Linked DNA regions of Homo sapiens: regions 1, 2 and 3 are each linked to region 4. The links come from fine-mapping of genetic effects on gene expression. A gene starts in region 4. Each other region holds a variant in brackets. All regions are shown on one strand. Distances are from middle to middle.

Region 1 (8,109 bases), 56 kb after region 4:
GACAGTGCGGTGATTCCTCAGGGATCTAGAACTAGAAATATCATTTGACCCAGAGATCCCATTACTGGGTATATACCCAAAGGATTAGAAATCAGGCTACTATAAGGACACATGCACGCCTATGTTTATTGCAGCACTATTCACAATTACAAAGACTTGGAACCAACCCAAATGTCCATCAATGATAGACTGGATTAAGAAAATGTGGCACATATACACCATGGAATACTATGCAGCCATAAAAAAGGATGAGTTCATGTCCTTTGCAGGGACATGGATGAAACTGGAAACAATCATTGTCAGCAAACTATGGCAAGGACAGAAAACCAAACACTGCATGTTCTCACTCATAGGTGGGAATTGAACAATGAGAACATTTGGACACAGGGCGGGGAACATCACACAACATGGCCTGTCGTGGGGTGGGGATCTGGGGGAGGGATAGCATTAGGAGAAATACCTAATGTAAATGACAAGTTGATGGGTGCATCAGACCACCATGGCATATGTATACCTATGTAAAAAACCTGCACATTGTGCACATGTACCCTAGAACTTGAAGTATAATTAAAATTTTTTTAAAAAATTAACCAGACGTGATAGCACATGCCCATCGTCCCAGCTACTTGAGAGGCTGAGGTGGGGGGATCAGCTGAGCCTAGAGGTTGAGGCTGCAGTGAGCCATGATTGTGCCACTTGCACTCCAGCCTGCGTGATAAAGCAAGACCCTGTCTCAAAAATAAAAATAAAATAAAAAACAAAAACATATGCCAGGATCATAAATAGACATAATTCAAATTTTAAAATCTTTGAAGAAAGAGGTCATTTTGTTATCCTGTATCATAACAAGATCTCAGTGGGTCAACATAACTGGGATATGTGCTGGGACCCCTGCAATATGAACTGGTGCTGAAGAGGAAGAAAAGTGGGCTTGGTCAGAACAGAGGCTGGGAAAAATAAACTGAGTACTGAGGCCTCCTGTTCTAGGTCATCAATGAAGGAAAGAGAAAAAGTATCTATAAAACCTGCAGGAAATTTCTGAGCCAGAAAGTTTGTCCTTAGAAAGCATTGCATGCATGGGGCATAGGTGTAAGGTTGTAGTTCATAAGCTGTATGACTAGGTGAACCTGCCTCCTTTTTCATAAAAGGGAAGATGTGGCTGTGTATGCTGGAGTCATTATTCATATCCCTTAAGCAGCATTTCTACCTGGCAGTCCAGACCACCTCCAAAAGAATCACCTGGGAAGCTTACTACAAACACAAATCCCTGAGGCCCAAATCCCAGACTGATTGAACCAGACTATCTGGAGATGGAACCTGAAAATGTATTTTTACAAAATCTAGAACAAATTCCTATGCCCACTTAAGTCTGAGAACCACTGCTTTAACTCTTGGGACACCAAAGGAGCCTGGTCAATTAAAGTTGATTAATATACAAGTTCTTGTGTTTTTAAAGGACTTTAGATGAATAATCTTCAGCTAAAGGCAGGTGATTTTTAGAGAATCAATATAATGGAAATATTTAAAGCAGTGGGTCCCAGCCCTGACTGCAAAATGGGGTCATCTAGGAAGCTTTTTAAACATTACAATGCCCAGGCCAGTTAAAACAGAATTTCTAGGGTAGGGCTCTGTCATTAAGTGAAACAAAACAAAATAGGATATGACATCAAAGGCAGAGACTACAAAAGAAAAATACAAAAAAACTTTTCTGCATCAGCACTATCAGTAGAAGCCGGGCATGGTGGCTTATGCCTGTAATCCTAGTACTTTGGGAGTCTGAGGCAGGCAGATCACTTGAGGCCAGGAGTTTGAGACCAGCCTGGCCAACATGGTAAAACCCCATCTCTACAAAAAAAAAGGAAAACACATCAATCAATAGAGTAAAAAGACAACCCACAGAAAGGAGAAGAATATTTGAAAATCACATATCTGATAGGGATTACTATGCAGAATATGTAAAGAACAACTACAACTCCACAGCAGTAAAAAAATCCAGTTCAAAAATGGGCAAAGGATTTGAATAGACATTTCTCTAAAGAAGATATATAAATAGCCAGTAAGTACATGAAAAGATGCTCAATATCACTAGCCATTAAGGAAATGCAAATCAAAACTGCAATGAGATGCCATCTCATATCCATTGGGGTGCTATTATTCAAAAAATGAGAAATAACAAATGTTGATGAGGAGAAATGAGAACCCTCTTGCATTGTTTGTGGGGATGTAAAATGGTACAGCTGCTGTTTAAAATAGTTTGGTGGTTGCTAAAAAAGTTAAACATAGAATTCTCATCTATCCAGCAATTACACTTCTAGGCATTTCCCCCAAAGGATTGAAACCAGGAACTCAAACAGATACTTGTACACCAATATTTATAGCACCTCTATTCACAATAGCCAGAAGGTGGAGATAACCCAATGTCCATCAATGGATGAACTGATAAAATGTGGTGTGTGTGTGTGTGTGTGTGTGTGTGTGTGTGATGGAATATTATTCAACCTTAAAGAGGAGTAAAATTCTTATATATGATAAAATATGATCCATGAAAACATACTAAGTGAAACAAGCAGATACAAAAGGGCAAACATATGATTCCACTTATACGAGATACACAGAATAGACAAATTCATAGAGACAGAATGTAGGATAGAGGTTACCAGGGGCTGGGGGGAAGGAGAGTTATTTCATGAGTACAGAGTTCTGTTTGGGATGATGGAAAAGTTCTGGAAATGAATAGAGGTGGTGGTTGCACAACACAGTGAATATACTTAATACCACTGAATTGTATGCTTAAAGGTGGTTACAAAAACAAATTTTATGGGATGTGTATTTTGCCACAATTAAAAAAACAAAAAATAAACCCAAAAATCTTCCCTAGGAGATTCTACTATGCAGCTCAGGAAGAGAACCACTGGTTTAAAGGGGTAGGAAAGCCACAGAGACCTTACTGTAGACTCCAGCTCCCTGGTGAAGAGTGAGAGAGCTATAGCATCTGCTGAGTTGCAGGAGAGGAGGGGCTGTGCAGGTAGATGAGGACATGGGCATGGGTTTGTGCAGTAGGAGGAAGGACAGGGTCAGACTGGCACCTAGCACAGTAAAAATTTTGGCTTTCGAGTCACACAGACCTGGATTTGAATTCAGCGGTACAGCCTATCAGACCTGTGACTCTGCTTAACCTTGCTGCCCTTTATTCAATGGTATATATTAAAAAAGGAGCAACAATCCCTATGGCATCGTATTATTGTAAAGATTACATGAGATTATGCTTTTAAAGTGCCTAGAACCAATGGTGATATTTTAAAAATTTAACAGCTGCATTGCAGGGGCAGGGTTGGCTTCATGAACTTCACACAGGACCATGTGCTTAGTTTAATACTCTGCTGCTGCAGTCCTGAAATTCTTAATAATTGTAGAACAAGGGTCCTGTAATTTTCATTTTGTTCTGGCCCTGGCAAATTAGTTTTTGTGGTGCAAGAGCATTCACCCAATCACAACAGAGCTGGCAGAAGTGCTGAAGACATTTGCCAGGCATTAACCCTTAGTTGCTGGACCATGGAAAGGTCCAGAGTTTCTTCAGCAAGAGGATGGGTAGGAGTAGAGCTTGAGGGTAGTGGTTATAGTGGCCAACTTTCTTCTGCCCCTGCCCCGCTACCTTGGCTGTGTCTGGGGTCCCTCACATGCTCCTCTGGTTAAGTGGCTCCAGAAAGTATGCTTCTGGTCTTCTCACTGGGAGAGAAGTGGTGGGAGGGGACCAAGTGGAGTAGGAGTGGCTCTGGCACTAGCACCTTCTTTCAAAGATTTCCAACCAGTTACACTGTTTTCTGCTCTCCATTCATTCCCCTTCAGAGGTACCTGGTATCACAAGGTCCCATGTCTTTCCAGGGTTTTGCAAAGTGAATCCACTGACTCCTTGTTGTTCTTACCCCTCCCATACCTATCTTTGCTCTACAGATATTTAGCTTTCACCTATCTCTGATATAAGTCAGTTACCACTCATCCATCTGCTTTCTAACTTACAAAACTGTGTAGCTGTAACTGGTGAGCTGTCAGCCTTGATCAGCACCTCTAGTCTCTTCTCCCATTCTCTGCGTCCTCATGAGTTTATTTCTTTTTTTTTTATTCTTCTACTGTCATTTTAGTGAGGTTTTAGGAAGCAGCAAACATAAATTCATGTTTTCAGTCTGCTTTGTTTAACCAGAAGCCAGTCCTGATCATTTTTAAGCCTGTAATATCAAATTCATTCAAAAGCTCATCTTCTCTTCTCCCTTCGGCACCTGCTGAACGTGTGGCCCCATGGGCATGAAGTTGAGAGAGGAACATGGTCTGCTATTCAAATACTTAACCTTTTAGAGAATACTTATGGTCTATTCAAATACTTTTTTCAT[G/A]TATGGGTGGGAAATATGGATGATAAGGAAAGAGAGACTGCCTCCTGACCTAACTGGGCATGGTTTCAGTCCCTAGCTCATTGTCCAGGAACCCTGTGGAGAAGGCCTGTAGCTTAATGTGCTCCATGGATGAGGTTCTCAGTCTTATACAACTCTCCTAAGCATTGACAGTTTCCTTAATATTTACTATCACTTCCAGCTCTCACTTGGGAACATTCATGCAGTATCCCTGCAGTGCACATGCCTCTTTGTTCTCTGATGCTGCAGTGGTCCATGGAAGATCATAGCTCACAATCTCATCTGCATTGCATAGTCAACTCTGAAGCAAGCATATATCATGTGTGACCCACATCTGAGGGTTGGGGGGAGCAGTTTTCCCCTCGCCATTGCCCACTCTCTTCATTTTCTTTTGCTATAGCAGAATACCGCAGACTAGGTAATTTATAAAGAAAATAAGTTCATTTGGTTCACAGAAATAAGTTTATTTGGAGCCTGGGAAGTCCAAGTGCATGGCACTGGCATCCGGTGAGGGCCTTTGTGCTGTGTTTCCCATTGTGGAAGGTGGAAGAACAAAAGAGTGCAAGAGCCAGAGCCAGGGCAAGAGGGGTTAACTTGCCTTTATAATAAGTCCACTCTCAAAATAACTTACCCACTCCTGAGATAAGGACATTAATCTATTCATGAGGGCGGAGCACTCGTGACCTAATCACCTCTTAACAGTCCTACCTCTTAATACCATCACAATGGCAATTAAATTTCAACCTGAGTTTTGGAGGGGACATTCAAACCATAATACTCACCATGCCATCTCTCACCAGTTTTCTCATCCCCTGGTAAGGAACCACAAGGACAGATGAACCTTTCAAGCAACCTTTCTATCATATGGTTAAGTAAGCATAAATATAAAATAAAATAAGCATGTTCCCAACTGAGAATTAGCAGTTTTCTACAGAATTTTGCAGTCTGTAGAAAAGTATTTCTTAACTTATCTGGAGGTCACCAACAGAAAGGATTGCTGATGAAGGAGACTTTAAATTTTAAGAATTAAAGAACTGCTTATAGCTAAGTAAATGCAAAAACAATCTGTACATAACATCTTAGGTATATGTGAAAGCCAAGGTAAATTAGCTAAGAATCTGGTACATTTTCCAAAATTTTTAATAAGAATTTTTCAGAATCTGTTTTCTAAGGAAGATGATAGAAAATGCGCTATCTACCTTATGCTTATTTTACCATATGATAGAAATTGCTCAGTAGAATTTAAAGATTTTTTAACATAAATGTAAACTAGTTCTTTGTAAAACAAGGGTCCTGTAATTTTCAACTAGTTCAAACTAGTTCTACACTGTCTTATTAAATCAAGGACAAGTGCAGGATGTTGCAATTAAGAAAAAAGCCAAAATTTCCTTTTTAAATTATTTCTTAAATAGTAAAGCACTATAAAATGATAAATGAAATATTTAATGCTCCTAATTTCAGCAAAATTTATGCCCATATTTTTAATGTAGTATTTGCAATTCACAGGATGAGCTATTTCGTACTCTTGCATCTTATAAACTTATTGCACCAAGATACAGATGGCAAAGAAGTAAATGGGGACGTACATGTCCTGTGAATTTAAAAGATGGTAACATTTATTCAGGATTACCAGATTATTCTGTGAGGTAAGTAAGATTTTCAGAACTTAATTTTAAATCTTCCTCATACATCTTTTCAGTTGTTTACTAATATGGCATATTTTAAGTTTTCTAGGTAAAATCTACTGTCTTTCATCAGAAGAAGCATTAAAACCATTTTTGTTGAACCCACGTCCCTATCTGCTTCCACCTATGCCAGGACCACCATGTAAAGTATTCATACTTGGACCTCAATATTCAGGGAAAACAACACTTTGCAATATGCTTGCAGAAAATTACAAAGGAAAGGTGACTAACTAACTATCTGTCTATCTATCTATCTATCTATCTATCTATCTATCTATCTATGTCTATCTGTCATGTATCTATACTCGATTATAATTTGTAGGATTTTATTTGTACTCAGTTTTTAAAATTTCATGTTTTAATTGAATAATTGTTCCACTGGGCTTGGGGTAGGGTAGGCATTCTTTTTGTTGTTTATTGCTGCTTCCAGACCAGAGTCCCTCCCTGCTTCCCAAAAGCTCCCACATGTGAATATCGTGTCATTCAGACTCTGCCACCTATTAGCTTTCTTGGTTCTACTCATCTTCTGTCCCCTGGGTTTCACTTCTCCTGGCTCACTCTCACTCTCCCCATATAATCACTCCTGTCCTAATTCTTGGTGATTTCAGTATTACAAAGATGATCCTCCCAACACCTTGACACCTCCCTCAGTAATCTTGTTCTCCACTCTCAGTAAATGAAATTATTTTTAGCTTAGACAAGAGTGATAGCAGTAAAAGTGGTATGAAACAAGCATATTTGGGATATAATTTGAAGACAAAGCTGAAAGATTTGATGAGGGATTGGAATGTGGAGGAATTCTAGAAGGGGCAATGTGGCTTGAGGATTGCCTATGCAAGAAGGAATGGCACAAGATCATGGCTAAAGACAGAGCAATTCAGGCCACAGAAAGGTGTTAGAAGTTGTTCAAAGTGCTGTTGCATTCTTTTAAGCGCCGGAGTATCATTTTCTATTTGCTTTTAACTTTTTCATTGTGAAACATGACAAACATACAGAAAAGTGAAGCCCACTGAGTTACCGCAAAATGAACCCCCATGTAACCACCAACCAGGTCAAATCTGGAATGTTGCCAGCACCCAGACGCCCTCTCATGTTTCTTCTCAATACCAGTCTCCTCACTCTCCACACAAAGGTAACCACTGCCCAGAATTTTATGGCATTCACTTCCATACTTCTCCTATGGTTTTGCCGTGGAAGCATACATCCAAATACCATAGGCTAGTTTTGCATGGTTTTTTTGAATTTTATAGACCTAAACAATTTATCTTCTTTGTGCCTGGCTTCTTTCACTTAACATTATAATTATGATATTTGTCCAGACTATTGAATGTAGCTGTAGTTTATTCATTTTTATTGTTTTATTGTATTCTGTTGATTGACTTATACCATAATGTATTTATCCACATTTGAGCACTAATAAAACTTGGATTGATTCCAGATTGGAGTAAATAACACTACTATAAACATTCTTGTATGTGTCTCTTGGTGCACACATGGACATATGTTCAACTTGTGTAGATAATGCCAAATTGTTTTCCAAAGTAGTTCCATTATTTCACAATACTATCAGGAGTATATGAGAGTTCTGTTATTCCACATTCCTGTCAACTCTTACTATGGTCGGTCTTTCTAATTCTAGCCATTTTAGTGAGTGTATAATAGTATCTCACTGTGGTTTTAATTTGCATTTCCCTAATGACTAATGAGGTTGAACCTCTTTCATCTGTTTACTGACCATTTAAATATTCTCTTTTTGAAGTGTTTTCTCAAGTGTTTTGCCCATTTTTAGTTGTGTTTTTGTATATTATTAGTAAGAGTTCCTAATATTATCTATATACAAGTTATCTGTTGATTATAAGCATTAGGACTATTCTCTGTCTCTCTGTGGTTTGCCATTTCACTTTTCTAATGGCATCTTTTAATAAACAGAAGTTCTTTGTTTCAATGAGGAATGATTTATCAACCTTGTCTGTTATCATTAGTGCTTTTTATGTCATACTTAAGAAAATTTTTCCGCCCAA
Region 2 (8,102 bases), 200 kb after region 4:
CACCTATCATGTTTGCTTTCCTTCTCAGGGGAGCAAGCTGTGTTTTCCATGTCAAGGGGTCTGTGTCCCTAACAAGGGAGAACAACATTTCTGCAATAAGAACATGTATCCTTTAAAGCTTCTTATTGAAATTCTGCTTTTGTTTAGAAATTATGCTTGCATATTATTACAAATAATCCATTAACTAGCGTCCCAAATATGATGAAAGAATATTCTGAATGGGTGTCCAGGGACCCTTAAACCTTCCCTATGTGAAACAATAACAGAGTGGGTGGCCAGGCCACGGTGCTCACTGAGGCTGAGAGAGACTCCTTTTTGCCCACCCCCATCCTCCAGCTGCTGCCCCAATCCTGACTGCTTCAGGAAGAGGCTGAGGCAGTGCAGCTTTAAGGGCAAGGGAAACTCCAACCAGCCTATGCCTCTCCATGGCTTGTCTAGATGTCATTTTCACAGCAACAATAACTTCACCCAAGAAGGAGAAGCAGTCTCCATTTGACAGATCCTAAGTCAAACAGTAAATGAAATGTGGAAAAGTAGGAAAAGGATTTTGGAGTACTTCCTTTCCTTTTTTTTTTTTTTTTTTTTTTTAACGGTTACACTCAGATCCACACTGAATAGATACGCTATATTTGACCATTCCTATTGCTGGACTGTGTACTGTTGTACTAAATTTTAAAATACTACGTTGAGGTTGGGCACAGTGGCTCATGCTTGTAATGCCAGCACTTTGGGAGGCCAAGGTGGGAGCATCACTTGAGCTCAGGAGTTTGAGACCAGCCTGGGCATGTCTCTACAAAAATTTTAAAAATAAATAAAATACTGTGTTGAATCTTTCCCTCTTATATTTAGGATTATTAGCCTGATATAAATTCTGAGAAATAAAATTGCTGGGTTAAAGGGCATGACTATTCTTAAATGGATATTCACAATTCATATTACCAAGCAACTTTCCAAAATAATTACAGCAATTTATACTGCTTCCAGGAGCACCCAAGAACACCAATTTCAATACTTCTTTACAATCACTTGGCAGTATCTTCACATTTTTTTTTTCTTTAATGGGTGAAAAGCAGAACCTTTTTGCTTTAATCTGAACTAATAGTGAGATTGTATATTATTGCATATGTTGGTCACCAGTTGCATTTTCTCTTTTGTGAATTATTATCACATCCTTTGCCCTCTAACTTATGCAGCGTTTAAAAGTTGTTCTGCATGAGTTCTTTATGTAATATAGACATCAACCTTTTGAAGTACATATATTCCATTTTTTAGGTATTAACATAAAACATGTTCATCATTGCTTTCTAATTTTTTTTTTTTTTTTGAGATGGAACCTCGCTTTTTCGCCCAGAGTGCAGTGGTGTGTTCTCAGCTCACTGCAACCTCTGTCTCCCAGGTTCAAGCAATTCTCTTGCCTCAGCCTCCCAAGTAGCTGGGATTACAGGCACCCACCACCATGCCTGGCTAATTTTTGTATTTTTAGTAGAGATGGGGTTTCACCATGTTGGCCAGGCTGATTTTGAATAGTCTTCTAAGCTCTGGAAATTCTTCAATCTCTAGAAATGGAATATTCCATTCTGTTTTATTTTACTTATTTGTGTTTTAAAAAATATATATTTGGCCGGGTGCAGTGGCTCACGCCTGTGATCCCAGCACTTTGGGAGGCCAAGACGGGCGGATCACGAGGTCAGGAGATGGAGACCATCCTGGCTAACACGGTGAAACCCCATCTCTACTGAAAATACAAAAAATTAGCCGGGCATGGTGGCAGGCGCCTGTAGTCCCAGCTACTCGGGAGGCTGAGGCAGGAGAATGGCGTGAACCCGGGAGGCGGAGCTGACAATGAGCCGAGATCGCGCCACTGCACTCTAGCCTGGGCGACAGAACGAGACTCCATTTCAAAAAAAAAAAAAAAAAAAGGAAAAATAAATAAATAAAAATAAAGATATATATTTAATTCTTTAAGTCCTCTAGAATTTATTTCAGGATATGGTGTGAACTGTGGTTTTAAATTCTTCAAAACTCAAAGTACAGTAATAAATACTATATTTTTTAAACGTTCTCAATTTTATTATATATTTTTCACTTTATTTGCAATTCATTTGGTAATTTGTTGAATTCAGGCAATTCATTAAAATTTCACAAATTCAGTGATGAAGGGGAGGAAGTTCAAGAACAGGATAGGCTGGGCGCGGTGGCTCACACCTGTAATCCCAGCACTTTGGGAGGCCAGGGCGAGTGGATCACAAGGTCAGGAGTTCGAGACCAGCCTGGCCAACATAGTGAAACCCCCATCTCTACTAAAAATACAAAAATTAGCTGGGCATGGTGGCGCACACCTGAAGTCCCAGCTACTCGGGAGGCTGAGGCAGGAAAATCGCTTGAACCCGGGAGGCGGAGGTTGCGGTGAGCCGAGATCAGGCCACTGCACTCCAGCCTGGGCAACAGAGCAAGACTCCGTCTCAAAAAAAAAAAAACAAAAAAAAAACGGAAAGAACAGGATAGGAATGAGAGATATATTTTACACATGAACGCCTTTGTCTAGTTGTGGGTGATTTTTTTTTTTCGTTTTTTCTTTTTTTTTTTTTTTTGGTTTGTTCTTACTTTTACAAATGAAGATCCGGGTTAAAGAATATCAAGCTACAAAGCCTGAGAGCCCTTAACTATGGGTGGTTCTGGGAAGAATTATCAGAGGGAGTGACACCTGAATTAAATGGACTTTTTAAAATCAAAGCAGGTAAAATTTTAAAAAAATAAGTCAAATTTGAGATTATAACCAGGGGGTGAAAAACATTCCAAGAATTAATTTGTGAGCACACGTATTCACCAAACCTGTGAGACGCATGTTGAAGACTGCTTAGCATATGCAAGCATGTGTATATTTACAAGAATTCTACCAGTCTGTGTACAGTAGGAGATTAAAATATAAGCAGATACATGCCCTGCCCTTGTGTAGTACAGGACACATGGGATCTGGAAATTGGAGCACTACTGGATTAGTGCTATAAAATCCCTCTAAAGATGCACTATTGGCACTGAACATTGACAATTGTCCTTCTGTTCTCCCCAAATCCCTTTAAGTCATAATAAGCCTTGGACTATAGTTCCTTCCAGCCACAGTTATCAACCAACCATCCCAGGCTACACACATATTTTTGATGCCCTTCATCATGACAAAGGACTTCCACTAACCTTTAATTGCCAGATGATCATGACCTTCTCCTTCCTCCAATCTGCCAGATTCTCCATTGACTCAATACAACTGGAAGCTAGCCGGCACAGGACTTTGATGATGAAGTCCTTGAGTCCCTGTAGCCTCCCAGGGCCAAAAAAAAAAAAAAAAAAAGGAGAGAAGAATGGAGACTACATTTGGAGAGGAAAGAGAAAAAATCTGGATCGCCTTTTATCAATATTCACTCTGTAACTGATCTTACTTACAACAATTTATAATCTATGCTCTGATAACTCCATTATTAATATCTCAATTCTGTTCTCAGCTCTGAACTCCAGATTGTTACCTATGACTGCCTACTGTACTTGGTTATCTAGTTAACATTTCAAATTTAATATGTCCACCCCATACTTGTTATCCAACCCAACTTCTCTTCTTCCAGATCAGTTAATGGTAACACCGTACACTCTGTTGATTTAGCCCCAAACCCAGGAGTCAATCTTGATTGCATTGTTTCCGTCACTCCGCACATCTATTCTCAGCAAGTCCTCTCAGAAAGACCTATCCCCCAAATCTACCTTGAATATGGGCTCTTCTTACATTTTACACTGCTGTCACCCTCATATCCATGCCTCCACTCATGTCCCTCCAGGATCTACTCTTCATCTAGCAGCTGGAGTAATTTTTAAATACATAAGTCAGATTCAACAGTCCTTTTGAATAATCTTCCAGTGGCCTCCTATTTCAGTTAAAATCGAAACTCCTTTTTCTTGGCATAAAAGACTTTACATGATCTGGCTCTTCTTGCCTTTAACATTCTCTCCATCCTTCTCTTTCTCTCT[C/G]TCTTTTTTTTTATTATTTTTTTTTATTTTTTATTTTTGGAGACAGAGCCTTGCTCTGTCGCCCAGCCTGGAGTGCAGTGGCATGATCTCAACTGACTGCAACCTCCGCCTCCCGGGTTCAAGAGATTCTCGTGCCTCATCTTCCTAAGTAGCTGTGCCACCACGCCCGGCTAATTTTTGTATTTTTAGTAGAGACGGGGTTTTGCCATGTTGGCCATGCTGGTCTTGAACTCCTGGCCTCAAGTGATCCGCCCACCTTGGCCTCCCAAAGTGCTGGGATTACAGGCATGAGCCACTGCACCCGACCTGGCATTGACCAATAACTTTGAAATGCCATTATCTCCTCTACAGTGTTTGAAGTATGCACTCTATTTGTACCAATTAAGTGGCTGTCCCTTACTCTTTCACCATGTATATGTAAAGCCTCAAGGTAATCAATAGCTGTACCCTTAAAACACTGGAATACTGATAACCAGCTTCCCATCTTAAATGGTATTTTCATTCAATATTTTAGATCTACTCTATTTGTTTACTCTCCGAATTAGACATTATTTTGCATAATCAATGTTTGTTTAGATTTCCTTCATACTTACTTTTTTCTCTTTTTTTTTTTTTTTTTGGCTTACAACTCCCTCTTATACCTCAGACTTTCCTCTTGGTGTTATTTTCCTTCCTATGGTATGGGTTTGTTGGAGGTTAATACTTTTATTTTTTGTTTGACCAAAATTGTCTTGATTTTGTCCTTTTCCATGATAATTGTAGTCTATAAAAAAGATTTTAGGTGAATTTTGAAAGTATCATGCCACTAACCTCTGGCTTCTACTATTGCTGTTGAGAAACCAGCTGTCATTTTAACTGGTTTTCTTTTATAGGTACAGTCATGCATTGCTTAATGACAGGGATATGTTCTGAGAAATGCATCACTAGGTGACTTCGTCACTGTGCAAACATCACAGAGTGAACTTACACAAACCTAGATGGTATAGTCTACTACACACCTAGGCTCTATGGTACAACCTATTGCTCCTGTGCTACCAACCTGTACAGAATGTTATTGTACTGAATACTGTAAGCAGCTGTAGCACAGTGGTATTTCTGTATCTAAACATATCAAAACATAAGAAAGACACTTAAAATACAGTATACTGATGGCTCATGCCTGTTATCCTAGCACTTTGGAAGGCCTAGGTGGGCAGAGCACTTGAGCCCAGGAGTTCAAGACCAGCCTGGGCCACATGGCAAAACCTCATCACTACAAAAAATACGGAAAAAAAAAAATAGTGGAGTGTGGTAGCATATGTCTGCAGTCCCAACTACTCAGAAGGCTAAGTGGGGAGGATCACCTGAGACCAGGAGGTAGAAGTCACAGTGAGCTGAGATCATGTCACTGCACTCCAGCCTAGGCAACAGGGTGGGATTTTGTCTCAAAACAAAACAGTATAAAAGAAAAAAAAAGTACACCTGTGTAGGGCACTTACCATGAATGGAGCTTACAGGAATAGGAGTTGCTCTGGGTGAGTCAGTGAGTGAGTGGTGAGTGAATGTGAAGGCCTAAGACATGGCTATACACTACTGTAGACGTTATAAACATTGTACGCTCTAAGCTACACTAAATTTATATGAAAAAAAATTCTTTGTTGGCTGGGTATAGGTGGCTCATGCCTGTAATCCCAGCATGGGAGGCTGAGGCAGCATTTATTTTTTTAAATGGGTGTCCTGTGTCTTTATTTGTGAAATCTGGCAACTCTCCACTCCATCTGCTGCCCCTCACTCACTGTGCTCCAGCCACACAGTCCTTGCCGTTCATCAGATGCTCCTTCCCAGTCTGAGCCTTTATGCTTGCTTTTCCCTTGCCTAGAACATTTTTATTCCAGATCTTCCCACAGCTGTCTCCATGTCATTCAGATCTCAGCTCAAATGTCACCCTATCCTGATTTCACTTCCCTGTCAGTCTCCATCATCATTCTTTATAAAATTTAACACTTTCTGAAACTATTATTCATTAGTTTACTTGTATATTTGTCCTGTCTCCCCTTAGTAGAATGTAAGCTTCATGAGAGCAAAGGCCTTGTTAGTTGCTGTATCCCCAACACCTGACGCCAATGTCTGGCTCTTAGTAGACACTCGATAAATATCTGTTAGATGAATGTATGACACCCCAAATCCTGTTCTGCAAGATTTAAATTTAAGAAGACCTGTTAGGGGTAGACCGGCTGGCCTTAACAAGAACAAAAGTTTTGAAAAAGTCAGTATGGATCCAAAACAAAATTGCCTTGAAGAAAGGGCTAGTCTGTGTTGTGGGTGGCTGATGCTGGAAGATCCTCCAGACTCAGTCTTTCCTCGCAGGATTATGCTCCAGTGAGCAATGATTGAATGAGGAAATGGAAGTACCTGGCTTACCTTGGCACTGAGTCTTCTTATGCCGTTGAGGACCTCTGGAGGGACAGTGATTTGACTGCAACCCTCGTAGCAGCAAGAAACAATGAGGTAGCTAACTTCCTGCTGGTATGCAGAAGTCAGGGAGCGCTCCCCATCCCACTTGTACCCCCACAAATCCAGAGGACTTAGAGACAATTCAATATGAAAGGGAAACCTCAGAGAAGGAGCATGTGTGGCTTGAGCTAGTTTTAATAAAATCTAGTAAAAATGTAAGAGCCAGGTTGCTAATTACACCTCCGGTTCAAGATCAGGGAGGCTATAGATGGCATGTTGGGAATCTGGAAATGGGCAGAAAAATAAGTAATTAGGTATTGGCTAAGAGAGAGAAAATGCTGAAATAAATGGATGGAAGCAGGTGGGGAGTAGATCTGGATGGGGCTTGTAGACCACATTAAGAAGCCTGGACTTTATCCAGAGGGCATGTGGGAGCCACATGGATTCTAAGCCAAGGAGTGACTCTAGTCTCTGGATCTCATATGTACTTGGAGAAATCCTCTGTACTTCTGCGAATTAAAGAGAACAACGCTGCAGCTGAGACCAGTTAGAAACAGTCTATTGAACAAAGATGATGAAAGTTTGAATAATAATGATCATTTTAATCACAGCAGACGAATTAAACCAGGCATTTCCTAAGCCCATTACATACTTAATTTTGTTTATGCAATAGCAACCCTACCAAAGTGGCACTAGTGTTAACATCTCCATTTTACAGGTAAGGTAAAGAAGTTGTGAGGGTAAGTAATTTGCCCAAGATCTCTCAGAACCCAGGTTTCTCTGACTGCAGTGCTCTCTTCATTCCCTTAGACTAAGGCATCAGGAGTGGGGAGGAAAAGGAGGCAGATGTGAAAAACATTTAGGAGGTAAGTAATAGTTATTATATTAGCACTAGATAATGACGATGGTGATGATGATGACAATGATGATGACGGTAAGGGGGATTTCATGCCTTTATACATTCAAGAACAACACCAGATTCGGTGTCGGAGAAGAGATAAAATTAAGGTATTGGCGTTGAGCTAACAGTTTAATACGATATAAAACTTCCCAAAGGGAGGGGTCACAACGCCTCTCCTGTCCATTGCCCCCAATTCACCGCAAAAGTCGCTCCTGCCTGGGCTCCCCGGCAGTGCCACACGCAGGACCTCGGGCGCCGACACCGCCCCGCCCCTGGCCGCGCCCCGCCCCGGCCACTGTCCCTCCTCCGAAGCCGCGCCCCTCCCCGCCCTGCCCCGGCCCCGGCCCCGGCCCCGGCCCCAAAGCCCCGGGCCTGCCATCTCGCCCCGCCCTGCCCCGCCCCGCCGCGGCTCCCCCGACCCCAGGCCTGCATTCTCGCCCCGCCTTGCCCCTCCCCTCCCCTGCCACGCCCCAACCCTTGAACTGCCTTCGCGCCCCGCCTTGCCCTGCCTTGCCCCGCCTTGCCCCGCCCCGCCCCGCCCCGCCATCTCGCCCCGCCCCGCCCCTCACCTCCCTTCCCCTCCCCGCCGCTCTCGTGGCCCCCACCTCCAGGGGCGCCTCTGCGGGCCACGTGGTTCGGCGTCCGCGCGCAAGCGGCTCTTGGCGCCGCGCTTCCGGGTTGGCTGTGGCTGTGGCTGCGGCGGCGGCGCAGGAGCAGAAACCGGTGCGGCGCAGAAGCCCCAGAGGCGGGCGGG
Region 3 (8,109 bases), 120 kb after region 4:
AACTACAAAACACTGCTGAAAGAAATCATGAATGACACAAACAAATGAAAACACATCCCATGCTCATGGATGGGTAGAATCCATGAGCATGTGAAAATAACCATACTGCCAAAAGCAATCTACAAATCCAATGCAATTCCCATCAAAATACCATCATTATTCTTCACAGAACTAGAAAAAAAATCCTAAAATTCAAATGGAACACAAAAAGATCCCACATAGCCAAGGAAGACTAAGCAAAAAGAACAAATCTATAGGCATCACATTACCCAACTTCAAACTATACTTCAAGGATATAGTTACCAAAACAGCATGGTACTGCTATAAAAATTGGCACATAGACCAATGGAACAGAATAGAGAACCCAGAAATACAGTCAAATATTTACAGCCAACTGATCTTCGACAAAGAAAAAAACAAACAAACAAAACATAAAATGGAGAAAGGACACCCTATTCAACAAATGGTGCTGGGATAATTGGCAAGCCACAATGAAGAATGAAGCTGGATCTTTGTCTCTCACCTTATTCAGAAATCAACTGAAGATGGATCAAGGACTTAAATCTAAGACCTGAAACCATAAAAATTCTAGAAGATAACATCAAAAAACTATTATAGACATTGGCTTAGGCAAAGAGTTCATGCCCAAGAACCCAAAAACAAAAAGACAAATAGATGTGACTTAATTAAACTAAAAATCTTCTGCACAGCAAAAGAAATAATCAGCAGAGTAAACAGACAACCCACAGAGTGGGAGAAAATCTTCACAAACTACGCATCTGACAAAGGACTAATATCCAGAATCTAAAAGGAACTCAAATCAGCAAGAAAAAAAAATAATAATCCCATCAGAAAGTGGGTTAAGAACATGAATAGACAGTTCTCAAAAGAAGATATACAAATGGCCAGCGAATATATGAAAAAATGCTCAACATCACTAATTATCAGGGAAATGCAAATCAAAACCATAGTGACATACCACCTTACTCCTGTAAGAATGGCCATAATTAAAAAATCAAAAAATAATAGATGTTGGCATGGATGTGATGAAAGGGAAACAGTTTTACACTGCTTGTGGGAATGTAAACCAGTACAACACTATGGAAAACACTATGGCAATTCCTTAAAGAACTAAAAATAAAACTGCCATTTGATCCAGCAATTCCACTACTGGGTATCTACCCATAGGAAAAGAAATCATTGTTTGAAAAAGACACTTGCACACACACGTTTATAGCAGCACAAGCCTAAATGCCATCAACCGAGTGGATAAAGAACATGTGATATATATATATTCCATGGAATACTACTGAGCCATAAAAAGGAATGAAATAATGGTTTTTGCAGCAACCTGGATGGAGTTGGAGACCATTATTCTAAGTGAGGTAACTCAGGAATAGAAAACCAAACATTGTATGTTCTCACTTATAAGTGAGAGCTAAACTATGAGGGCACAAAGGCATAAGAATGATATAATAGACTTCGGGAATTTGCAGGGAAGGTGGGAGGGAGATGAGGAATAAAAGACTACACATTGGGTACAGTGTATAGTGCTTGGATGATAGGTGTACCAAAACCTCAGAAATCACCACCAAAGAACTTTTCCATGGAACAAAACACCACCTGTTCCTCAAAAACTTTTGGAATAAAAAAATTTTAAAAAGATAAGACAGATGTTAAAAAAAAGACTGGAGTTCTTAACCTAGGGTCTATGGGTAAAATTCAGGGGTGTGTGAACTTAATTGGAAAATAATTCCGAATTTATTTTCACTAACATTTAACTGAAATTTATTATTTCCTTCAATGTGCAATTAATATAGGCAACAAACCACAATAATATTAGCAATACTTTGACTTTGTCACCAAAAGAAATGAAGATGTTTTCATATCACATTATAGTTTTACATATCTTTATATGTTTATCACTGTTCCAAAATTGTGGTAGTTATTAAACCGGCTACTAGTTCTGGGTTGTTTGTTTGTTTGTTTGTTTTGAGCCAGAGTCTCATTCCATGACCCAGGCTGGAGTGCAGTGACACAATCTCAGCTCACTGCAACCTCCACCTCCTGGGTTCAAGCGATTCTCCTGCTAAGCCTCCTGAGTAGCTGGGGCTACAGGTGTGTGCCACCACACCCAGCTAATTTTTGTATTTTGTATTTACATTTAATATATTGATTAATATACTACATGATTTATTATTTTTAGTTAGCTGTAAGAAAATCAATCATTATATATATAATCTAACCTGGTGCTACCCATTAGAAACATAATATAAGCCACACATGGAACTTTAAATTTTCTAAAAGTCACATATTTTATATTTAGTTTTTCATATTAAATCTTTAAAATTCACTGTATGTTTTATACTTACAGTATATATCAATTTGGACTAGCCTCATTTCAAGTACTCAATAGCCACATGTAGCTAGTGGCTACTATATTGAATGGTGCTGATGTAGCCATTTCTTTGGACATTGGGCTATTTCTAGATTTACTGTAAGGATGTTTGGAACTGCCACAAACATTTCATTTTTGAATGAACCCCTAGTCTGGTACTCATACAGAACTCTGAGCAGATGACTATCATCCTTTACCACTACATGTGAATAGCTATAATAAATAGATAATTTTTCTATCTCCCCCATTAAACTACATACTCTAGGAGGGCAGGGACCATTTCATATTCTTTGTTTGGCTTCAGCACTTATCAACACCCAATAAATATTTGTTGACTTCAACCAAATGATAATTTATTTCTTCAAATTTTTTTAGAAGCTGAAGAGACTGATAATGAGGATGAAGAGGAGATTGAAGGTGATGAGTTGGAAGTTCACGAAGAGCCTGAGGCATCTCACGATACCCGAGGGTCATGGTTACCTGAGGAGTTTGAAGCATCTGAGGTCCCTGAAACTGAGCCTGAAGCAGGTTAGACTTTATTGATAGCAAGTTCTTAATTCTACTCATGTGCATTAATGTGTCTGTTTGGGTATGTGTATGTATACCTGTTGGTAAAATGGAAGCTGGCTGAGAATGGAGAGATGAGCCCCCAGAGAGCAGCCATTGAGTCCAAATCCCACAGTTTGAAGTGTGGTAGGAAAGCAGAGGCTGCTCTGCCCCAGCACTGGCACACAGGAGCACAGCTGGCTATGTAATTTGTGGGGCATGTTGTTCAAAAAGCAGGAAAAAAGTGTCATTAAAGGTAGTAAAATATAACGGTTTTTCCTTTCTTCCATAGTCTGTCTCTCAATTTGTCATGCTATTTTTTTGTTTGCTATTTAATGTTGCTCTAAGTAAAGAAAAATTAAATTAAAATTTTAAATTATTAGCATGAATTTTACAGTTCATCTTTATGGTGTGCAATGCCATTTTTAAATGCAAATATAAGAGCATTTTAAATGTTAATATGAGAGCATTAACTCTTTAAGCCCTACCTCAGAGGTCTCATTTGGTGGATGGGGCAAGGCAAGAAGGAGTCTATAGGCAATGAAAACCACTCCAAGGACTAGAGAGTGGGCTTAAAGCAGGAACATAGGGTACCCACCTGTGGTGGGAATGAGGCTTGCAAATGCTTTCAAGCAGAGTTAGTATTGAATCTGAAATTCATCCTACAAACTAAAAGGTCTTCAGATACCTGTAACTGGATGCTAGTCTGGAGCAGTTAAGGGCCTGGAACTGCTGTGAGCTTATAAAAGAAGCAAGACTAAGGGAAATTAATGAAAATTACACAATTCATATTTCACAGCTCATATGTGCATGTGTTTCATTCTGACAAGTATATTAAGTATTATGCATATCTAAGAGCCCCAGGCTGGTTTGTTCACTTAAAAAGATATTGAAGCCCCAAGCATCTTCTTTCCTCCTGTACTTCTCTCCAGTATCTGACTCCATCCTCACGATCCATAGGTGGCTGCTGCATCCAGACACAATGTCTCCTCTTGCAAGCTTTTACTTTTTATTTCTAATTCAAGAAATAGATAGTTCACAGAGACTTTCACCTACATTTCATTGAGCAGAATATTGTATCGTCATCTACCCCTACTTGCAGGGAATCTGGGAATTTAATTTGGACTTGGCTTCCTTGCCTAGATGGTAGAAGCCAATGGAATAGAAGACGAGAGGGGGGTTGAGGGAGCCAACCAACAGTATCTACCATACTGCCTTTCCACAGATGCAGGTTGCAGGAATGCCTAGGCGCACATTCATTATTTCACCCAAGAAATAAGTAATCATCTGCTCAAATTCTTAAATGCTTAACTGAGACTTTAGAGTTTCACATAAAAGAGAAATATTGTTTCATAGTATAGGTGGTAGATCAGCTGTATCAGAATCACCTATGGTTCTTATTTTAAGGTAAGCCTCTGAGCTCTATGCAGGCTCTGGTTCAGTAAGTCTAGGATGGAATTTAGGAATCTACATTTTAATGAACACCCCAGTGATTCTTATACATACTAACAGTTGAGAACTACTGCTATAGGAAAAACATTCTGCCTGAAAAATAAGTTTTGTCAATTATTCCTTATATCATGGAAAAAGCACAGTAGCATACCTGAGAAAAATCTGATCCTGAAAATAAAAACTCTAGAATCATTTGGCTGTACACTGTATCTGCAGGTCAAAATTAATGAATATATTGAATAGAAATTTGAAAAATGTCTATTAAAGACAGTGATCGTAGTTTTGATACAGTTGATGTTGAACGGTGTGTTTCAAAATCATACATCCATCCAGGTTTGATAAAAATATGTGCTAACTATAGAAAATACAGAAATTATACAAATAGAAAGATGGGGGAAATCATCATTGATCTGACAACAAAAGGCAATGATACTTAACATTCTAATGTATTTCCTTTTAGCTTTTTTAAGAATGGTGTTTTG[T/A]TTTGTTTTTATCTAACTGTGATCCAATTAGACTTCGGCTTGAGAGAAAGGTTTCCTCTCGGACATTTTTAAAGTCCTACAAGAGAGTTATTTTCAATAAACAATAACTATATGGAAATTATTTGTTTATAAACTTCCTTCAGATAGCATTTTGGAAAGAGGCATAACTTCTCCACATTGTTGAATGCTCATGAGTGTGGCCAGTTTTGTCCAGTCCACTAGAACAGGCTGTGGATTTCTGTAGCTATGTGGTATTAGGATAATGATAATTCCATTTGGATTTCTCCCAAATTCCACATGACCCTATTCTTGAGATTTTAATTTTGATTCATCTCTTAGTCATCTGGTCTACATCTTTGAGCAACTTTTTAAGGATCCAGCGTGGCATATTTTGTAATTTTTCTGCAAATCTATTGCTTTCACATATATAAAACAACTTAGAGGCTATTAAATCATTGTCATAACCTTTTCTTCTCAGAATTCCTCATGTTGACATTGCTTCATTGTCTTCTACACATGGAAAAGTCAAGATATTCCCTCATTTCTGTTCTTTTCGTTCTTTTCCTACAGGGGTGCTCAAAGGATCCTTTTCAATGCCATTATTTGTTAAAACTTTGCTGGTATGTGAATGATTTACCCGGGAATTCATTGAGCTCTTCTTGTCTTCATATCACAATCTTTGTCTAGCTCAAAATGCCTTTCTTCAGTTATTGCTTCAGATTCCTTTTTCAGGATCATTTATTATTTTTGGTCAGATAACTATTGTTTCTCAACCACGTTAATCTTCTTTTTCCTGATAGTTCTCATCTCTTTGTACTTTTTCTCTGGATTCTTCAGAGACTTGTTATCCTCCATGTCACTGGTTTACCTTCTCCACCTTATTGCCTCTCTCCTAATGCATTAAAAAATTTTTTTATTTCAGTAGTTTTAGGGGTACAAGTGGGTTTTGGTTACATGGATGAATCACATATAGTGGTGAAGTCTGGGGTTTTAGCATACCTATCACTCAAATAGTGCATGTTGTATTCTATAGGTGGTTTTTCTTTTTTTTATTATTATTATACTTTAAGTTCTATAGAGGGTACATGTGCACAACATGCAGGTTTGTTACATGTGTATACATGTGCCATGTTGGTGTGCTGCACCCGTTAACTCGTCATTACATTAGGTATACCTCCTAATGCTATCCCTCCCCCCTTCCCCCACCCCACGACAGGCTCCAGTGTGTGATGCTCCCAACCATGTGTCCAAGTGTTCTCATTGTTCAATTTCCACCTATGAGTGAAAACATGCAGTGTTTGGTTTTCTATCCTTGTGATAGTTTGCTGAGAATGATGGTTTCCAGCTTCATCCATGTCCCTACAAAGCACATGAGCTCATCCTTTTTAATGGCTGCATAGTATTCCATGGTGTATATGTGCAACATTTTCTTAATTCAGTCTATCATTGATGGACATTTGGGTTGGTTCCAAGTCTTTGCTATTGTGAATAGTGCAACAATAAACATACGTGTGCATGTGTCTTTATAGCAGCATGATTTGTAATCCTTTGGGTATGTGCCCAGTAATGGGATGGCTGGGTCAAATGGTATTTCTAGTTCTAGATCCTTGAGGAATCGCCCCATTGTCTTCCACAATGGTTGAACTAGTTTACAGTCCCACCAACAGTGTAAAAGCATTCCTATTTCTCCACATCCTCTCCAGCACCTGTTGTTTCCTGACTTTTTAATGATTGCCATTCTAACTGGTGTGAGATGGTATCTCATCGTGGTTTTGATTTGCATTTCTCTGACGGCCAGTAATAATGAGCATTTTTTCATGGGTCTGTTGGCTGCAGAAATGTCTTCTTTTGAGAAGTGTCTGTTCATATCCTTTGCCCACTTTTTGATGGGGTTGTTCGATTTTTTCTTGTAAATTTGTTTAAGTTCTTTGTGGATTCTGGATACTAGCCCTTTGTCAGATGGGTAGATTGCAAAAATTTTCTCCCATTCTGTAGGTTGCCTGTTCACTCTGATGGTAGTTTCTTTTGCTGGGCAGAACCTCCTTAGTTTAATTAGATCCATTTGTCAAGTTTGGCTTTTGTTGCCATTGCTTTTGGTATTTTAGTCATGAAGTCCTTGCCCATGTCTATGTCCTGAATGGTATTGCCTAGGTTTGTTTCTAGGGTTTTTATGGTTTTAGGTCTAACATTTAAGTCTTTAATCCATCTTGAATTAATTTTTGTATAAGATGTAAGGAAGGGATCCAGTTTTAGCTTTCTACATATGGCTAGCCAGTTTTCCCAGCACCATTTATTAAATAGGGAATCCTTTCCCCATTTCTTGTTTTTGTCAGGTTTGTCAAAGATCAGATGGTTGTAGATGTGTGGTATTATTTCCAGGGGCTCTATTCTGTTCCACTGGTCTATATCTCTGTTTTGGTACCAGTACCATACTGTTTTGGTTACTGTAGCCTTGTAGCATAGTTTGAAGTCAGGTAGGATGATGCCTCCCACTTTGTTCTTTTGGCTTAGGATTGTCTTGGCAATACGGGCTCTTTTTTCATTGCATATGAACTTTAAAGTAGTTTTTTCCAATTCTATGAAGAAAGTCATTGGTAGCTTGATGGGGATGGCATTGAATCTATAAATTACTTTGGGCAGTATGGCCATTTTCACAATATTGATTCTTCCTATCCATGAGCATGGAATGTTCTCCCATTTGTTTGAATCCCCTTTTATTTCATTGAACAGTGGTTTGTAGTTCTCCTTGAAGAGGTCCTTCACATCCCTTGTAAGTTGGATTCCTAGGTATTTTATTCTCTTTGAAGCAATTGTGATTGAGAGTTCACTCATGATTTGGCTCTCTGTTTGTCTGTTATTGGTGTATAGGAATGCGTGTGATTTTTGCACATTGATTTTGTATCCTGAGACTTTGCTGAAGTTGTTTATCAGCTTAAGGAGATTTTGGGCTGAGACGATGGGGTTTTCTAAATATACAATCATGTCATTTGCAAACAGGGACAATTTGACTTCCTCTTTTCCTAATTGAATACCCTTTATTTCTTTATCTTGCCTGATTTCCCTGGCCAGAACTTCCAACACTATGTTGAATAGGAGTGGTGAGAGAGGGCATCCCTGTCTTGTGCCAGTTTTCAAAGCGAATGCTTCCAGTTTTTGCCCATTCAGTATGATATTGGCTGTGGGTTTGTCATAGATAGCTCTTTTTATTTTTAGATACGTCTCATCAATAAC
Region 4 (8,102 bases):
CATGGCAACATTGTGTGTGTGTGTGTGTGTGTGTCTGTGTGTGTGTGTGTGTGTGTATTCACTGCATTTTGCTCGTTGACTTTCTGGAAAGCTAAAGAACAGTATCTGCTTATTATGAGAGTGTTTTGAGAGAGTCAGCCAACACTTTAGCAGAAAAATACCCAGGAAGCTCCATCACAGAGTCCTTCTCCACCACAACAATGCTGCTGCTCATTCCTCTCATCAAACATGGGAATTCTGCAAGAGTTTCAATGGAAAATAATTAGGCATCTGCCTTACAGTTCCAATTTTGCTCCTTCTGACTTCTTTTTGTTTCCTCATCTTAAAAAGAATCCTTAAAGGGCACCCATTTTTCTTTAGTTAACAGAGTAAAAAAGACTGCACCAATATGGTTAAATTCCCAGGACCCTCGGTTCTTTGTGGATGAATTAAATGGCTGGTATCATTAGTTACAAAAATGTCTTGACCTTGACGGAAGTTAGCTTGAGAAATAAAGTTTACATTTGTTATTTTTATCTTTTAATTCCATTTTCCCATGAACTTTTTGAAATCCCCTCATATACACACCCAGTAGTGGGACTGCCGGATTTTTAGTTTTTTGAGGAACCTCCATACTGTTTTCTATAATGGCTATACTAATTTACATTACCACCAATACTATATAAGAATTCCCTTTCTCCATATCCTCACCAGCATTTGATAATTTTTGTCCTTTTGAAAATAGCCATTTTAACTGAGGTGACATGATATCTCACTGTGGTTTTAATTTGCATTTCCCTGATAATTAGTGACCTTGAGTAATTTTTCATATACCTGTTGGCCATTTGTATATCTTCTTTTGAGAAATGTCTACTCAGATCCTTGCCCATTTTTAATTGGATTATCTGGGGGTATTTGCTGTTGAGTTGTTGAATTCCTCATATATTCTGGATATTAGTCCCTTCTTGGATGAAGAGTTTGCAAATATTTTCTCCATTCTATAGGTTGCCTCTTCACTCTGTTGATTGTTTCTTTTGCTGTGCAGAAGCTATTCAGCTTGATATAGTCCCATTTGTCTATTTTTGGGTTTGTTCCCTGTGCTTTTAAAGTCTTACTCATAAAATCTTTGCCTAGACCAATATCCTGAAGCATTTCCCCTATGTTTTCTTCTGGTAGTTTTACAGTTTTGGGTCTTGCACTTAAGCCTTTAATCCATTTTAAGTTGATCTGTGGATATGGCAAGAGAGAAGGGCCTTATTTCATTCTGCACATGGATATCCAGTTTTCTCAACACCATTTATTGAAGAGACTGTCCTTTCCCCAGTATACATTCTTAGCACCTGCACCACACCTTATGCCTAGTGTTCCGTTATTGGAACGCTAAGCTTGTGGGAGTTATTTATATCCTACTGCTCAAGGTCATCGCAAAGGTCTGATTTTTCACACAAAAAAATTTGCAACCTCTGGCATAAATGGGTTAAGTAACTGCCTTAAATTATCTTTGCCTCATTTTTTTTCTTTACTAAATAATATATATAGTAGTAGAATTAACAGCATGATCTCTTAGAGGTCTTATGAGGATTAAATAATAAAATATATGTAGAATATTTTGAGCTATTATCCTCATTATTACAACCTACTACAGTTTTTGTTTTTTTAATTCATAGCATTTATCCAGTTGCCTGTAATTTTATGCCTTTTTCTTATTTATTTATACTTTGAGCTTATTAGTAAAAACAAAACAAAACAAAACAAAACCTTTCTGCTTATATCTTTAACCAAAAAAAAAAAATTATTTAACAAAACCGAGACTCAGTGATTCAATGCAGCAGACATTTTCAAGGGTGGTTGCCCAGCCCCAACCATTTGCTGAAACAAAGAGGATCCTGATTCCACAGCTAAATCATTCCTGCCAGACCCCCCCTGGCCATGAATGATTTGTCCACTCAGGGGATGATAACCAATCATAGTTGAGTCGATCAGATTTTTTCTCCCAGCACCTACACTGTTTTTGGCAGTACTCTGAGAGGGTTCTCAAACCTGTTATCTCTTTCCTGCTTTTCCAGAAGCTGGATACCATGCAATGGCTCCCCTAGCATCCCTCTGATAAATTTACCTTTTGTCTCTAAGCTGGCCAGAGTTAGTTTCCATTACTTAGGCAGTTGAGAGGGGTCACAGCTGAGTTCTGGAACACACCTCTATCTCTTTGTGTTAGAGCTCCTTAATCCACATCTATTGAGAGACTACTGTTTGCAAGGCATGACCAGATATGTGCTGTGAGGATCAGCAAGGTTTTGACAGGAAAAGAGGGGGTGTGGCATTAAGAGAATAGAGAACAGCAGAAAAACACAGGGCAGATATAGGGAACTGAAAGCAATACAGTTTTACTGCAGAATAAGGCATATGAAGGCACATGGTTGATCCTCAATAAATGTTTCATTAATTGATATTAAATTAGATGTAAAACTAGATAGACAAGTTGAGGACAAATAATACATGGCTTTGAATGCCAACTAAGGGATTCAGAGTTTACTTGCTTCAGAATTGGGACCACTGAAGATTTCTGAGCAGAAGAGCCCTATAATATGAATTGTGCTTTCTGAACACTAATATCTCACGCAGTCCTCATGAGTGATCAGCTTTTTAATGGGCTGAAATTTGTGTTTTATTTACGGCCAGATGCGGTGGCTCATGCCTGTAATCCCAACACTTTGGGAGGCTGAAGCCAGGAGTTTTAGACCAGCCTGGCCAACATGGAGAATCCCTGTCTTTTATTAAAAACACAAGAATTAGCCGGTCATGGTGTCACATTCCTGTAATCCTAGCTACTTGGGAGGCTGGGGTGCGAGAACTTCTTGAACCTGGGAAGCAGAGGTTGCAGTGAGTGAGCCGAGATAGCACCACTGCACTCCGGCCTGGGTGACAGAGCAAGACTCTGTCTCAAAGGGAAAAAAAAAAAAGTTATTTATGTTTCTAATGAGGGAAATTTAGCAGCATATTTTACAGAAAATAGGTTTCATTTCAATGACAAATGATACTTCTTTATGGGTCTCATTAGAGAACTGAAAATACTTGCAAATACAGTATATTTGATAATGTCATTTTCTGCTCTAGATCTAATCAAAGTTGTCAGCAAAATTAATTTAAGGTCCACAATTCTCTACTCATGTTAACCTGAGGGAGAGGTTATTGTGCTATTAGGACTACGTTATAACTGAGAAACTGTTAAATGCCTTCTCATACTCCTCTAATGGAGACAACCCAAGTTTCAGAGAAACAGTTTATAAAGCACTCTATAACATAGTGAAGAGCATTATGAAAATATCTGGCATATGCAATCTTGTTAGCATGAAATGGGTAATATTAAACACAGTCCCTAATATCACTGTGGCACCCCAATTTAGAAGAGCTATACTGTACCAACTTTGCTTTCCACCCACAGAAAGGACCAAGTATGAAGTTATATAAACACCATTCTCCCTTAATTGAGGAACTGGTAATCGAAATACAAACTGATCTGCTTATTCACTATTTACATGGCCATTCAAAGTAATAAAATTTTAAAAGTAAATGTTATGTTGAAAAAAGTCAAGTGAAAAGCAAGATGTTATCCAAACAAATTATCTGTCTTTAAACAAAGTAAGTTTTCCTTTCCTTTCAAATAAGAAAAAAAGAGAACCAAAAAGTTCACCAATAGAAGTGTAATTCACATGAATCGCAGTGATGGTATACCATGGAATAGGAAAAAATAAGTTACAAGTCATAGTTCAAATTTTTTTCATACCCCTGCCTGTACTGTAACTTGTGAACTCTAGAACTTTAACAGACTTTCTGAAAGCTGAAAAGAATCCAGTAACTCGTACAGAGAACCTCATGAACAGTTCCTGAGGTACCACAAGCACCTGTTTCCAGCGTGTTCCAGCCATGGCTTGTAAGTGGACCTGCAAATGCTGCAATGTCCAGGGTACCAAAATAGGGGAAAGGCGCCCAGGCACAGCTCAAGGGAGCTAGCTTACCCCAAGGCTGTGTTTGACAGGGATTTGGGAACTGGAGAGGAAGGAGGAGGAGGCAGAGTACAGCCTCTGTCCTACGGCCCCACACCCACCGGCAGACATCCATCCTCCCGCCTGCGCCCCGCCGCGAGGGGGTACTCACAGCTCTAGTCTCATACAGAACCAGCTTCTGGACCGAGCTGATGATGGGGGCGGCGGCCGTGGGCATGGCGGCGGCAAATGGGGGCCCCACAACAGGGCACGAGCCTCCGGACCGCCCCAGGAGACTCGGCGAGAAAACCCCTCAGGCCCTGGACATCAAGTCCAGCCAGGAACAACACCCATTAGGCACTAAACCTATAGATGATCAGGTGTTTCCGGATCCCTGCGCCCCGCCTCCAGGCAAGCCCCGCCCCTCACGTCGGGAGCGGGGCTGGAGGACGTATCATAGAGAGGTCGGGTAGAGGCTCCCGGGACCTGCGTGCTGCCGAGAGAGGAAGCGAAGGGCACCATCTTTGGTAAGGATTGGAGGAAAACATGGGCGGAGAAAAAGTCGACGGATTAATTGAGTCTATTTATCTCCTCCCTCTCTTTGGAAAAAAGCGGAAGGTTTGGGATTGGGTAGCTTCTTTTGAAAAGGGTTCTCCGAGTTGCAGGATAGATCCTTGTGTTTTCCCTGCCTGCTGCGGCCCATTTTCCTGGAAGCCGGCCCTCTGACGGTCCTTCACTGAGTGTCAGTTTTCCCCTCACCTCTAATCCATGTTGTACCTACGCTGTGTGGCCCAAGAAATTGTTTTAAAATCACCTAAAGCTGGAAAGTGTGGCTTTGCCACACGTTTGTGCGTGAGGCTAGCCACTTGAAGTTGTCGACAGAGACTAGCGCAGTGTGGCGGAGCCGCGCTTGAAATGAGGTTTCTTCATTTCATGTGTGCGACATAAATGGGCATGCGCGTACCCTCTCTTCCATAGTTGTGAAAATGAGTGTATTATAATTATAAATGCCAAATTAGGTACAAAAGTGACTATTTCGAATTGGAAAAGAAATGACAAAGAACTACAGCCCCGCCTCTCGAGGCCCCGCCCCACCAAGCAGCAGGTGCGTGGCGGCCAGAGGTCTCCCCGGCAACCGCCCGACAGCCCCGCGGAGTCCCTGGAGGCAGTTGCTTCCCTGAGGAGGGTCCGGCTGCGGCCAGGTAAGGAGCCTTCCGGCGGCCCGCTGGGTCGTGGTCCGCCCTGGAGGCATCTTGGTATCTGTTGCACGGAACCCCGCCTCCTGCGGGGACCCCCAGACCAGCTTCTTTTCTTGCAAAACGGTCTCTTTGTAAATCCACTTTTTAAAACCACGTCTCCTTTCAACGACTGAAGTATTTATTCCACAAATATTTACTGAACACCTACTGCAAGAGTATAAGATGTAGGGGAGAGGCAGCTATCCTATCTTAGGCGGCAATTCTAGGTTTCCCAGGAAACCTCTAAACCTCAGAAACCTCTGCTAGAGGGCTTCTCAACTGCTAAGTGTAAGGAAACTTTAAAAAAAAATTATAGAATTATAGCATACCCAGATAACATTCATGTAATACCAAAGATCATATTGTAAATTAAAATTTGAGAAATTACAAAAATTGTAAAGAAATACTTAAGTCTATGTTATTTTGCGCTTCTTTCCCCCTGTAGTTTGGTACTCCTTTTATTAAGAACTAGAAGGATGGCCGTGTCCGTTCTGGCATTTTGGACTTGGATCTTTTAACTGGGAAAAATAGTTAGCTGTGTTCTGTTTCATAATGAAACCAACTCTTCTGAATATTAGTTAAATGTTTGCACAGTGTTTTTATCTAGGATAGCAACTCTTAAAATACCTGAAGGATTCTAGTTTTCAATTATTATAGTTTAGCACTTCCATTTTAACTTTATCTTAGTTTATTTCACCCGGAATCAGATCCTAAGACAAAACTTTGAAGGCAGGTTGTTTATATGAGACGTAATCCCAGGAAACAGCAGCAGGGAGGGGAAGAAAACTAATAAAGGAAATATTACCAGAGAAATTTCTCTGTGGGCTGAATTCACTAGGGAATACTGGGAGGCATGTCTCAGTTATCCCCTCTTGAGGGGCAAGGAAGCTGGAGTATTTATTCGCCAACTTCCATCAGTTATTGGATGAAGCCTGATAGGGCAGAACATTGATGCCCTAGAACTTCCAGTCTACCCTGTGTTCAGGGAGAGTAGGTTCTGGCAGCCAGAGAAAGCCCTTAGGCAAAAAGTCGCACATGCTAACATTTTGGAAGTTGGGCTGGTCGTGCATAGAAAAGGTGTATGTCAAGTGGATATGGGGGAGGCACTAATAGCAGCTGCTACATTCCACCCTTTGCAGCACTCGTATCCATTCTTCCTCCACATCAAGTTCACACCATGCCACCCTAATTCTTTAAGGTAGTGGCTAGTCTCAATTTTTAAAAGAAAAGGACTTACAAAAAAAAAGATTAATGGGACAAGCTGCAGAATCCACTACTGCAATTAATCTGAGGTCTCTAATTGATCATCTCCTTCCTCTAACATCATTCTAGATTTTCCTTACTCTTGGCCAACACTTCTGCTGGTCTGTGTTTGCCCAGTAGGATAACAAGCTTTCATCCCTGAGGAGCATAAGCCCTTGGTTACTGTGTCATTGTAAGGTTTTGGTTGCTGCAATTACCCATTCACTGGACATGAAAGCATCAAGAGCTGTCTCAGAGAATCCCCTGAGTTCAAGAAATGCATCCCCTATCCCACTTATCTAGCAGTTTATGGCCATACCACCCTGAGCACCCCCAATCTCATCCAATCACATAGCAGCAACCCTATCTCCATCTGCCAGTGCAATAACTCCTTATGAGCTTTTGGAGTCAAAAATGACCAGGTGGCAGCAGTAGTTTTAAGATTTAATGAAACCTTTACTGGGTCCCCTGATAGAACCATCTCTCCCCTCCACCAGACCCAGGACCTCTTGTCCAGAAGTGAGGTGCAAATTTCCCAAGTCAATCACTGAGAGTATTAGTGAGAGGGGTCACTCCTACTTCCAGCCCTTGATTCAAAGCATGTTCCTCATCTTGAAGTACATTGTCTCAATCCCACACAATCCCAAGCTAGCGCCTTAGCTGTGCCTTTAAGAGACCATTCCAACATTCTGTCAAACCAGTAGCTTCTAGGTAAAGTGGTATTGTAAAAAGGGTCCTCTGATCCAAGGCAATGGTATATGAGATCTCATGAAGATAAATGAGACATACTCTAAACCTTTAGGTAGTGGTGCTGGCCAAGGCACTGCAGGTAGGAAAAACAAGCCCATATTAGGAGCATTTGTCACTTGCCCCTTTAAAGGTGAAGGGGTCCTGTGTAATCAATTTGTCACTGAATGAATGTTTTGTCTCCTAAAGGGGTTGTACCATATTGAGGGCTCAATATGAACAGGTCTCAATTTGTAATCAATTTGTCACTGAATGAATGTTTTGTCTCCTAAAGGGGTTGTACCGTATTGAGGGCTTAATATGAACAGGTCTCTGCCATGAACAGGTAGAACATTCAGCAGCAGTAGTGTAGCTAAACCAGCCTGGTGAAAGGAGGCCTTGATATGAGCCCATGCCTATCCTTCATCACCTTCATCCCTGCCACCATGCCTACTTCATTTACAAACCCATTATGCAAGCATTGAGGTGACCAGAAGCAAAGATTGGCTCATGTCTACTGGATAAATTATCCTGTCCACCTGGTTTTTTCAGTGCCTCTTCTGAGGTGGATGCTTTCTGAGATACAAATATCTATGTATTTTACATCCACTTACATTAGTTTTCTATGCTGCATAGCAAATTACTGCAAATTTAGCAGCTTAAAACAACACACATTTGTGATCGCACGGTTTCCATGGCCAGGAGCCCTGGCATCACTCACCTGGGTCCTCTGCTCAGGGTTTTACAAGGCTGCAATCTGGTGTTGGCTGAGATGTGCTTCCATCTGGAGACTTGACTAGGGAAGAATCCACTCCCAAGCTGATTCACATTGTTGGCAAGCATCATCGTTTTGTGGTTGTAGGACTGAGGTCACTGTTTTCTTACCAGCTGTTGGCAGGGGCTGCACTCACATGCCACCCACTCTTCCTCATCA

The links. PIP is the estimated chance that this variant, and not a neighbour inherited with it, causes the effect.
Region 1: its variant is fine-mapped to the expression of AK9 in whole blood (TOPMed, PIP above 0.99). The same link has a PIP of 0.9 or more in lymphoblastoid cells, nucleus accumbens and prefrontal cortex.
Region 2: its variant is fine-mapped to the expression of AK9 in whole blood (TOPMed, PIP 0.98).
Region 3: its variant is fine-mapped to the expression of AK9 in whole blood (INTERVAL, PIP above 0.99).

The regions. Positions count from the first base shown.
Region 1 is chr6:109,631,124-109,639,232 of GRCh38, reverse strand. AK9 (adenylate kinase 9) reads left to right here. Exons shown (of 41, transcript NM_001145128.3): 11 at 5,910-6,049; 12 at 6,130-6,310. Among named protein-coding and RNA genes, the nearest start is that of AK9, 56 kb to the left of the region's middle. The variant G/A (reference allele first, on the strand shown) is at 4,386.
Region 2 is chr6:109,483,150-109,491,251 of GRCh38, reverse strand. It overlaps ZBTB24 (zinc finger and BTB domain containing 24), which reads left to right and starts at 8,033. Exons shown (of 7, transcript NM_014797.3): 1 at 8,033-8,102. ZBTB24-DT (ZBTB24 divergent transcript) reads right to left here and starts at 7,608. Exons shown (of 4, transcript NR_187591.1): 1 at 6,415-7,608; 2 at 3,193-3,316. RefSeq lists an enhancer at 1-645 and silencers at 7,533-7,972, 8,053-8,102. The variant C/G (reference allele first, on the strand shown) is at 4,015.
Region 3 is chr6:109,568,259-109,576,367 of GRCh38, reverse strand. It overlaps AK9 (adenylate kinase 9), which reads left to right. Exons shown (of 41, transcript NM_001145128.3): 21 at 2,774-2,926. Among named protein-coding and RNA genes, the nearest start is that of ZBTB24-DT, 89 kb to the right of the region's middle. The variant T/A (reference allele first, on the strand shown) is at 4,879.
Region 4 is chr6:109,687,534-109,695,635 of GRCh38, reverse strand. AK9 (adenylate kinase 9) reads left to right here and starts at 4,434. Exons shown (of 41, transcript NM_001145128.3): 1 at 4,434-4,489. FIG4 (FIG4 phosphoinositide 5-phosphatase) reads right to left here and starts at 4,340. Exons shown (of 23, transcript NM_014845.6): 1 at 4,135-4,340. The coding sequence starts at 4,200. RefSeq lists an enhancer at 4,387-4,856.